Linked DNA regions of Homo sapiens: all the other regions are reported to be linked to region 2. Evidence: microRNA targets listed by miRTarBase, many of them from high-throughput screens and not tested one by one. Region 2 holds a microRNA gene; each other region holds the end of a gene's coding sequence.
Evidence for each region. The annotated mature microRNA hsa-miR-6810-5p reads AUGGGGACAGGGAUCAGCAUGGC and lies in region 2 at 1,385-1,407, shown strand. An mRNA with a match to its seed (bases 2 to 7 or 8) in the 3' UTR can be bound and repressed. Matches are read on the target gene's strand: a 7mer-m8 pairs with bases 2 to 8, a 7mer-A1 pairs with bases 2 to 7 and ends in A, and an 8mer does both.

Region 1 (3,253 bases), not on the chromosome of region 2:
GAGGAGCCCCAGCCGTTCTGAAGGCGAGGCTGAGAGCGAGAGCAGCGACTCCGAGTCCCTGGACATGGCCCCCAGCGACACGGAGCGGACTGAGGGGAGTGAGCGTTCTCTGCACCAAACAACAGTTATTAAGGCCCCGGTCACTGGCGCCCTCATTACCGCCAGCAGTGCTGGGAGTGGTGGGAGCAGCGGCGGCGGCGGCAATAGTTTCAGCTTCAGCAGCGCCAGCAGTCTTAGTAGCAGCAGCACCAGTGCGGGTTGCGCCAGCAGCCTTGGCGGCGGCGGCGCCTCGGAGCTTCTCCCTGCAACACAGCCCACAGCCAGCAGCGCTCCCAAAAGCCCCGAGCCAGCCCAAGGCGCGCTTGGCTGCTTATAGACTGTACTAGGGCGGAGGGGATCCGGGCCTTGCGTGCAGCCTCCCAACCATGGGCTGGGTTTTGTGCTTACTGTATGTTGGCGACTTGGTAGGGCAGGAGACGCAGCGTGGAGCCTACCTCCCGACATTCACGCTTCGCCCCACGCTGCTCCGACTGGCTGCAGCGGACACTGCCCAAAGCAGAGGGGAGTCTCAGTGTCCTGCTAGCCAGCCGAACACTTCTCTCCGGAAGCAGGCTGGTTCGACTGTGAGGTGTTTGACTAAACTGTTTCTCTGACTCGCCCCAGAGGTCGTGGCTCAAAGGCACTTAGGACGCCTTAAATTTGTAAATAAAATGTTTACTACGGTTTGTAAAGGCCGCTTGGCTTTGCTGGGGGTTGTTAAGGCCAGAGATCTACAACCGGACCTTAGTCCCGGGGACACTGTAGAATGCAGCAGCTGAAGGTGGTGGGGCTGGAGTTTCAGGGGAAGTGGCTCAACCTCAGAGCCATCTTGTTACAGACATCAGAGATGGGCGTCTGGGTTTAGAGGCTTCTAATTAAGAGATTTCTAGCGCCAACTGCCACTGAAAGTGCCCTCTGAGACCCTGAGTAGCCTGAGAGTGGAGCAGGCCATAGAAACTGTTAGGCCAGTGCAACAGATGGTTTCCCCATTCACAGTATGGACGAAATGAGTTCCTAGAGTACTCAGAGTTGGAATGGGGAAGGCAGTGATGCCAGGCGGGGTCAATCTAGGCACAGCTGTAATCACTATGTGGACGCGAAGCGCGGGCCCAGAGCCCTGCACAAACTTTTCCTTGTTCCGGGATGGGGTAGAGGACAGGTTTGCAATGTTGCTGAGGAAAGGACAGACATGACACAGTGGTTAGAGCTGGAAGCTTGGGTCTTAGAGTGCCAGGGCCCTGGTTGTAAACATGCCAAACAAAGAGGTGACTTCTTCAAGGTGAAGCAGAGGCACAGCCCAGATCAGAACTTGGACTTCCTGGCCTACATGTGGCCACGGATAGAACTATGAAGTTGCATCCTCCATTCCCTCATCCACGCAAAAATTTTCCTTTGCAATTTGGCCACTGGAGGTGCCTAGATGAGCTCTTTCTCCCCAAAGCTGCTGAGAGTCGTGAGGCAGTTTCCCCATCCCACTGCAGCTGGAAAATATGTAGTAAACCTTGACACTGCTACTAGGATGGGCAATTCAAAGATTTTTTGTTTGTTTATTTCTTTTAAAGGTGAAAAGTTAAACCTCTCTCCAGGACCTGTCCTCCTGCTTGTAACTGTGAAATGTCTGGAGTTGCTAAAAGCTCTTTGGGGGGATTTTATAGCAAATAGATTTCTTTGGGAAATCCTGATCAGTCTCAGTGCCAATCTCTTCGGCACTGAGCAAGTGAAGGACACAAGGTCTCTGGCAGACCCAGCATCCAGGCGGGGTGGCCAGTTCTCAGAATGAGTTGAGGAGAGGTGCTGAAGTCAGAGAGCCTAGGACACACCTCAGTCCCTTGGCCAGAGTGGGAAAGTTCTCAGCAGTCCTCTGTCTTGCTTATCTCCTCCACTTTTAGACATTCCCCTGGAGCTCATTCCAGGATCTCTGTTCTCGACTTTTCCATCCAGGGGTGAAGTAGAGGCAGCAGATTGAGCCTTCTTACACTTGCATAGCCAGATACAAGATACAGATAACAAGTCCCAAAGCCAACACATGGATGCAAAGATGATCATTTCCTGACCCAGCCAACCCCCTAAGTCCCCAAATCGAGATGATTCAAGAGCAGTGAGAATGGAGTAGGGGCAGAATGATCAGAGATGTACAATTTAGTCAAGAGAAAAGAAAGAGCATACCACAAGGGACCCCATCTTCAATAGGAACATGAACTAGCTGTTATCCCTAATTGTGTCACAAGAGTTTCCAGGCCAGGGCAGCCTCCCCACCTGGCCTGGGTGCGGGCCAGGGCTGGGATAGTTCTTCAAGCCTTCTGTAGGCTCTGCTGCCAAACTTCAGGATTCCCTCTGTACCTCAGTTTTGTCTGCATTATCGATATCAATTTCCCCTGACCCCACATATCGAAATTCTGGAAGCAGGATATCCCAAGCACATCGAATTTTGAGGTGCTTCAATCCAGCTCTGGCGTTAAGGAGAATAACGCGTCGGCACGCACACTTAGCTGAGGAGCGGAGTCTAGGGAAGAAAGGTGGGGAGGATGCTTTATACAAACCGCACTTTCCCCTGCTCCTCACCTGGCCCTGGAGGTTTCCGCTACCGCCAAACCCAGACCGTAGGTCCACGCCCTGGCCCCGGGGCTTTGAACGTGAAGAAAATCATCATCGGGGAATGTCATGATGTGATTTCAGGTAGAATTCTGCCTTATTTAGGCCACCTTTCGCCAGGCCAGGGGGCACGGCAGAGCTGGGGGGCTCAGGGATGAAGTGAGCCGGGGGGGTGAGCGCCTGAGGGCGGGAGTCAGAAGGACGAATACCACCCTAGTGCTCGCAGGAGGCGCCCCTGCTTCCGCCACCCCCACCCCCAGTTCCTAGTCAGTTATCACCTGAAGTTCTTGCGGGGCTTTACCCTAGCAGTGGAGTTCTTCCACATTTCATCAGAATCGGAATATCACAAGCCCCGGAAAAGTTACAGTTCATCTGGAAGAAGGGTAGCCACAGGTGGCCAGGAGGAAAGGCTAAAATTTGGCCGGATAGTCCCATCCCAGGGCTGCTCTCTCGACCCCGGGTACTGGGGTCTTCTTGGCAGCGCAAAATGCTAGCAAAGGCGGCCAAGCAGCTCGAAATTCTTCAACCAAGACCTAGAGTTTTCAGACCCGGAAGAGAAGGCCCAGCGCGGACCGTGCGGGGCGCTAGAACCGCTCAGGGTTGAGGCTTGGAGCAGGAGAGC
Region 2 (3,253 bases):
TACAAGTGTCCCTCTGCCTCCATGTGCCCCGTGCTTCACATTCCTGGATCTCTCCCCTCCAGCTCCATCCCTTTCCTCTGCTTCATCTCTCCATGCTCTCCTCTCCTCTCCACCAGCGCCCACACTCCTGGCTCTTGCTGCTTCAAGTGCCTCTTGCATCCTGCTCCCCAGTCTCCAAACCTCCTCTCTCTCGCAGGCTTCCATTGAAAAGGAAGGGGTCACCTTGGTCGCCATTCTGTGTACTCACAAGCACTGGTAAGGGGCTCCCGTCTTCCCTGGCCCACCCTTGTCCCAGCTGGGCTTGCCAGGACTGGGCCCATTGAGGACGGCCGGGGCCAGAGATCAAGAAGTCAGTACGGGCCGGCACCCGCCTTCCTCGTGAAGTCACCTGGACACCAGCAGGGAGGGAGGAGAGGGGACAGTCTCCCACCACTCCATTGATCAAGCTTCTGAAGCCCCAGAGGGCAGGGCAGTCATTTCTCTTTCATTTCATGGGCATGTATTAGATACCTACTGCACACTGGGCATGGACAAAAGTTATGACTCTTCCATCAAGGAAATTCTAAGACCAATAGGGGAGGTAGCCCTGTATCAAAGTATATAACAGCGGAGGCAAGAGGGTTGGGAGTTCAAGCCCAACCTGGGCAACATAGTGAGACCTTGTCTTCAAAAAAGAAGTATGTGATATTTAGGTAACAGTTGGCACAGGGAACAGGGATGGGAGGCCCAGGCACGGTGTGATCAGATCCACTTGGAGAATTGAAAGATGATGACCTGAGCTGAGGGTTCAGGAAGCTCGGCTGGCATTGGCCAGCTTGAGTTGTTGGGGGCGATGTTCTGGGCAAGGGAACAGCTTGAACAAAGGCCTAGAGGTGTGGACAACTTGGCTTAGTCCAGAAGCCACAGCCCCAGCACTTAAAGGCCTGGAGATGCTGTGGTAAAGAAGGGGGCTTAGGTACAGTTGCCCCTCGAAGCCCCCTGCCTGTCTCTGCTGTCCTGCAGGGACCACAGTGGAGGGAACCGTGACCTCAGCCGGCGGCACCGGGACTGTCGGGTGTACGGGAGCCCTCAGGACGGCATCCCCTACCTCACCCAGTAAGTCCCTGACCTAGGCAAGGGATGGCCCTTCCATGGGCCCTTTCCCCCACCCCCAGCCTTCAGTGAAGTGTTTCAGGGGTATCAGCAGGTGGATCTTTGCCAGTGCCCTTCCTGGCCCAATCCCAGCCTATCTGAAGACTGGCACTGCCCATCCCCCAACTGATCCAGCCATAGTCCCCAAAAGAGGAAAGGGGGAGGGTTCGGACCTGAGACCCGAGGCACTGGGGTGACTTCTTTTGTATGGAAGCCCACTCTCTTGTGAATCACCCAGCCCCTTGGGCCTGGGATGGGGACAGGGATCAGCATGGCACAGATCCAATACCTTCTGTCCCCTGCTCCCTTGTTCCCCAGTCCCCTGTGTCATCAAGATGTGGTCAGCGTGGGACGGCTTCAGATCCGGGCCCTGGCTACACCTGGCCACACACAAGGCCATCTGGTCTACCTACTGGATGGGGAGCCCTACAAGGGTCCCTCCTGCCTCTTCTCAGGGGACCTGCTCTTCCTCTCTGGCTGTGGTGAGTTTCCCCGAAAGAGAGAGGAGCTGGGAGAGGAGGGAGAGACAGAAGCCAGGGCAGCCACAGTCCCATGGAGAGCACTGAAGCCTTAGTTTTAGCACAGATGTTGCCGTGGCAGTTACTTCCATCTGTGTTACTCAGATTGGTTTTAATCCTTGAGACTTCCCTTGGGGCACCTTGGGAGGCTGAGGCAGGAGGATCACTTGAGGCTAGGAGTTGGAGACCAGACTGGGCAAAATAGCAAGACTGTCTCTACAAAAAAATTTTAAAATAGGCCAGGCGTGGTGGCTCATGCCTGTAATCCCAGCACTTTGGGAGGCTGAGGTGGGAGGATCACCTGAGGTCAGGAGTTCAAGACCAGCCTGGTCAACATGGTGAAACCCCGTCTCTACTAAAAATACAGAAATTAGCCGGGCATGGTGGTGCATGCCTGTAATCCCAGCTACTAGGGAGGCTGAGACAGGAGAACTGCTTGAACCCGAGAGGTAGAGGTTGCAGCGAGCTGAGATCGCGCCACTGCACTCCAACCTGGAAGACAGAGTGAGACTCTGTCACAAAACAGAAAAAAAAATTTAAATAATATAAATAATATAGGCCAGGAGCAGTGACTCAGGCCTGTAATCCCAGAACTCTGGGAGGCCAAAGCAAGTGGATTGCTTGAGCCCAGGAGTTCAAGACCAGCTTGGGCAACATGGTGAAACCCCGTCTCTACAAAAAATACAAAAATTAGCCAGTGTGGTGGTGAGCCCAGGAATTCAAGGTTGCAGTGAGCTATGATTGTGCCACTGCACTGCAGCCTGGGCAACAATGAGACTCTGTCTCAAAAATAAAAAAGACTTCTGCCAGCTGCGGGACAGAATGGGAGAATGTCTGTAGCTGAGTAAAGCCCTGCAGGGAATTAGTTTCCCCTGGGTGGAGACTGGTTCTCTGATACAGTGACTGGCAGGACTAGGTTATGAAAAGTTAAGAACAGCTAGGTGAGTGGGTGGGTGAGGATCACAAGTCCCAGGCTGCATGAAATCCCAAAGGGCAGCCTAGGCGAAGAAGTGTTCCGTGGGAAAGAGCAGCCCTGCGTCTACCAAGCCTGGGGCCTGCAGCCCGAAGATTCCACAGCCCCTCCCTTCAGGTGTCACTGTGTGCAACGGAGGCCTCGGATGGGCTTGGTCAGGGGGTGACCAGTTGGGCCCAGTTCCCAGTGAGGAGGGAATAGATGCCTGGGGTGGGTCTGGAAAGTGCACAGTCAGGGCTGACGGCCAGCCAGAGCATTACAAGCTGGTTCCCACCTGTCTGGGTGTGCCTTATGCCATATTGTGTTATCCTGGCACCTTGTGACATACCCTCCAACCCCCACCCAGGGCGGACCTTTGAGGGCAATGCAGAGACCATGCTGAGCTCACTGGACACTGTGCTGGGGCTAGGGGATGACACCCTTCTGTGGCCTGGTGAGACACCCCCTTACTACTCCCCATCCTCCAGCCCCACGCTCAGCCTGGGACAAGGGCCTTCCCACCCCCTCACTCCCCTAGAAAGCAGGCCAGCCCAGTTCCTGGCCCAGAAGCGACACAGCTCCACCTCTAGGGGTAGGGACAGAGTTCTGGCCTCCCTTCTTCCTGGAGTGCTGGCTCCGTACCACCTCTGCT
Region 3 (3,236 bases), not on the chromosome of region 2:
GGGTAGTGAGTACAAAGAAAGGGAATAGTAGCTAACTCACTGAAGTTGGGATTGCTCATGCAGAGACAGCTGAGATTTCCAATAATTATCACTTTCCTTTTTTAATCAAAAAGTATCATTATCTGGAATCCCTTTTACTTTCTGTATTCTCTGTTTTTCCACACTGCTAAAAACACTTTTCCTTCTGCCTGCATTAACCACAAGTAATCAGTCTGGTGGCTGGGGCTGGGGAGGCAGCAAATGGCCATTTCTGTAATATCCCTAGAGCAGTCACATGGGCAGGGTGTGCCTAACCAGAGAATGGAGTTGTTCAGCTTGCATTCCTACCTGGAAATAAAGTGCTCTCCTTATTCTCCTCCTGCAGGTCGGTGAGCTGGTAAAGGTTACGAAGATTAATGTGAGTGGTCAGTGGGAAGGGGAGTGTAATGGCAAACGAGGTCACTTCCCATTCACACATGTCCGTCTGCTGGATCAACAGAATCCCGATGAGGACTTCAGCTGAGTATAGTTCAACAGTTTTGCTGACAGATGGGAACAATCTTTTTTTTTTTTTTCCAACTGCCATCTATACAATTTTCTTACAGATGTCAAAAGCAGTCTAGTTTATATAAGCATTCTGTTACCTGTGATATTTTTTAGACTGAACTGCTCCATTCCTAGTCTTAATTACCATATTCAGGGTACGAACTGGAGGGCTTGTGTGTTAGCTTCTGAATTGGCAATTGGAGGCGGTAGTGGTCGTGCCTGTGTGTATCAGAAGGGATAGGTATCTTGCCTCCTTTCTCTCAGGCAGTGCAAATCACCCTGTGGAAAACCGATGGACAGGAAGGAGTGTTACACACTGCTTACCCTGATTTATTCAGTGGTTTTGTTTTCATTCTGGAACCATACTATCAAATGGCGACAGACTGTTCCGTTCCACCCCCGTGAAGTAATCATGCACCGTGTGAATAGTATCAAGCAGGATTGCTTTCATTGTATGGAGCATGACCAGCGTGTGACTCATTCTGACATTTCAGATCCTAAGAATTCTAAGAACACTACTAGAAGCATTTGTTCCCTCCTAGTCAATGCTTCATACTTTTTCTTGGGATTCTTTTAGCCCTTGACATTCTTGTCCCCCAAACCTGTAAGTAGGTGAATTCCTAAGATAAGTGTGTATTTTCATTCCAGGTGAAAAGCAGGATGTACCGAGCACTTTATTCAGTGCATAGCTTTAAGCCAGTGTTGGATTCACTAAGTGGACAGCCAGTCTCCCAGCTCTCTGCCTTCCCCAAAAGGGTCGTAGTAGGTCACCCTTCTACAGCAGCTAACTAGAGTCCTAACTAATGGGATCCAGCAGGGCCATTTCTCCAGAGGGCCAGTATCCTATTAGGAGACTCTTGGAATTCTTAGGTTCTACTCAAGAGTGGAAGGACCAATCACCTCTGATATTCTGTGGAAGGTTTTGGGGTCAAATTCTGCCCTCTGCATTCTGTGCAACTTGTATAAAAGTCAAGTTAGTATTACATGAATTTGGGGTAGGGTTAGTGCTTTGAAAAAATGTTGAACCGGCTGGGCGCGGTGGCTCACGTCTGTAATCCCAGCACTTTGGGAGGCCGAGGCGGGTGGATCATGAGGTCAGGAGTTCGAGACCAGCCTGGCCAACATAGTGAAACCCCATCTCTGCTAAAGATATAAAAAATTAGCCCGGCGTGGTGGTGCACGCCTGTAATCCCAGCTACTCGGGAGGCTGAGGCAGGAGAATTGCTTCAACCTGGGAGGTGGAGGCTGCAGTGAGCCGAGATCGCACCACTGCGTTCCAGCCTGAGCGACAGGGCAAGACTCAGTCTCAAAAAAAAAAAAAAGGAAAAAAAAAAGAAAAAAAAATGTTGAACCAATTGTGAATTACTTATGTATTATTCATTTCTCATGGGGAGAGTAATGCTGTTGAAGAACATTACATTGTAAACTGCCTTCATTTTTGGCTCTTTGTTTATGTTCAGGTTTAGTTTACAAACCCATTTAAGTATGGAATGATTTATATGGGGTCAGGTGCTCCACAAAATAGACCTATGAGACCAAAAATGACCTAGGCTATTTAGACGACAGCATGAAACTTCCACGTTAGTTCTCAGTCTATAAAGGCACTTACCGGTCTCTGGTGTGGTATGACCAATAGAAACACCTTATAGTTTGCTTTGGACCTCATTTTGGAAAAATAATCTGCCTTTCTAATTGTTCTGCATAGGTTAAAATGATAAATTTACATTCTTTGAACCTATACCAGATTGTGGTGTCCGAGTGACCGGCACACTGTCTGACACACAGTCAGTGTGCACGTATTTGTCTGAGTGAATGAGGAGACCTGAGAAACCGGTGACGTGGCACAGGGAAGCCAGCTGGCCCAGGATTCCGTACATGGCCGCAAGCAGACTAACGCGTTGACGCTAATTTAATGTATTTTACCTCACACTAAGGTCATGCTTGATAAAGACGTTAAACTCAACTTGTAAAATGGTAGCCCAGTGCTATGCACAGAGTGGGTGCTCATTAGTGTTGAATGAACACATTTGTAATACTACATGTAATTCCATCTGACTGCTTTGTTAAATTTTCAGTTAGAACGTAGATACTGTAAAGTCCACACACACATTAAATCTTGTTTTCCTGAAAGTATGGCATCAAAAATACTTGTAGAAAAACCTTGTCACAACTGATTTGAATGTTCCTATTTTCTTTTCCTTTGACTTTGATATTGGCTTGTAATGTCTCTTTTCATCATATGTAATATCAGTGGAACAGGCAGCGCTACTCAAGTCCTAAGGATTCCTCAGTGATCAGTGATCCAGGGCCGTTCATGAACCACTGGGCTGGATTTGACTGTTGAGTGTGGCAGTTAATGCCCCTCAAGAAATCAAAGGATGTCTTATAAGTGTCTTCCAAAAAAAAGCAAATGCTGAAATCCTATTGGCAAAGTAAACTGAAATTGGCTGCTATATTTTATATAATCATTTCTGCAAATCCCATTTTTTGAATACTAATATTTGACATGGTTAATTCTTATTAATTTGTTGGAATTGTTTATTGTTAATAATGCAAATAGATAATTTTTAATTATCCACAAGTAACATTTCACTGTTAATGGTTTGAAATAGGTGATAAGCAAACCAATTTGAAATAAAATATAAACATGTGCCATTGTATTATAACACTATACACTTTCTTGACAGTTAAATTTAAAAAAAAATTTTTTT

Region 1: the mRNA of HLX is a reported target of hsa-miR-6810-5p. The part of its 3' UTR that is shown has no 7-base or 8-base seed match.
Region 3: the mRNA of CRK is a reported target of hsa-miR-6810-5p. Seed matches in the 3' UTR shown: 7mer-A1 at 1,271-1,277.

What each region holds. Positions count from the first base shown.
Region 1 is chr1:220,884,329-220,887,581 of GRCh38, forward strand. HLX (H2.0 like homeobox) reads left to right here. Exons shown (of 4, transcript NM_021958.4): 4 at 1-731. The coding sequence ends at 376. Among named protein-coding and RNA genes, the nearest start is that of HLX-AS1, 5.8 kb to the left of the region's middle.
Region 2 is chr2:218,340,532-218,343,784 of GRCh38, forward strand. It overlaps MIR6810 (microRNA 6810), which reads left to right and starts at 1,380; the gene lies at 1,380-1,449. It overlaps PNKD (PNKD metallo-beta-lactamase domain containing), which reads left to right. Exons shown (of 10, transcript NM_015488.5): 5 at 197-255; 6 at 1,003-1,095; 7 at 1,450-1,613; 8 at 2,969-3,055. The region is part of intron 2 of CATIP-AS2 (CATIP antisense RNA 2); the gene reads right to left. RefSeq lists an enhancer at 2,987-3,253.
Region 3 is chr17:1,420,779-1,424,014 of GRCh38, reverse strand. It overlaps CRK (CRK proto-oncogene, adaptor protein), which reads left to right. Exons shown (of 3, transcript NM_016823.4): 3 at 365-3,236. The coding sequence ends at 502. Among named protein-coding and RNA genes, the nearest start is that of CRK-AS1, 2.2 kb to the left of the region's middle.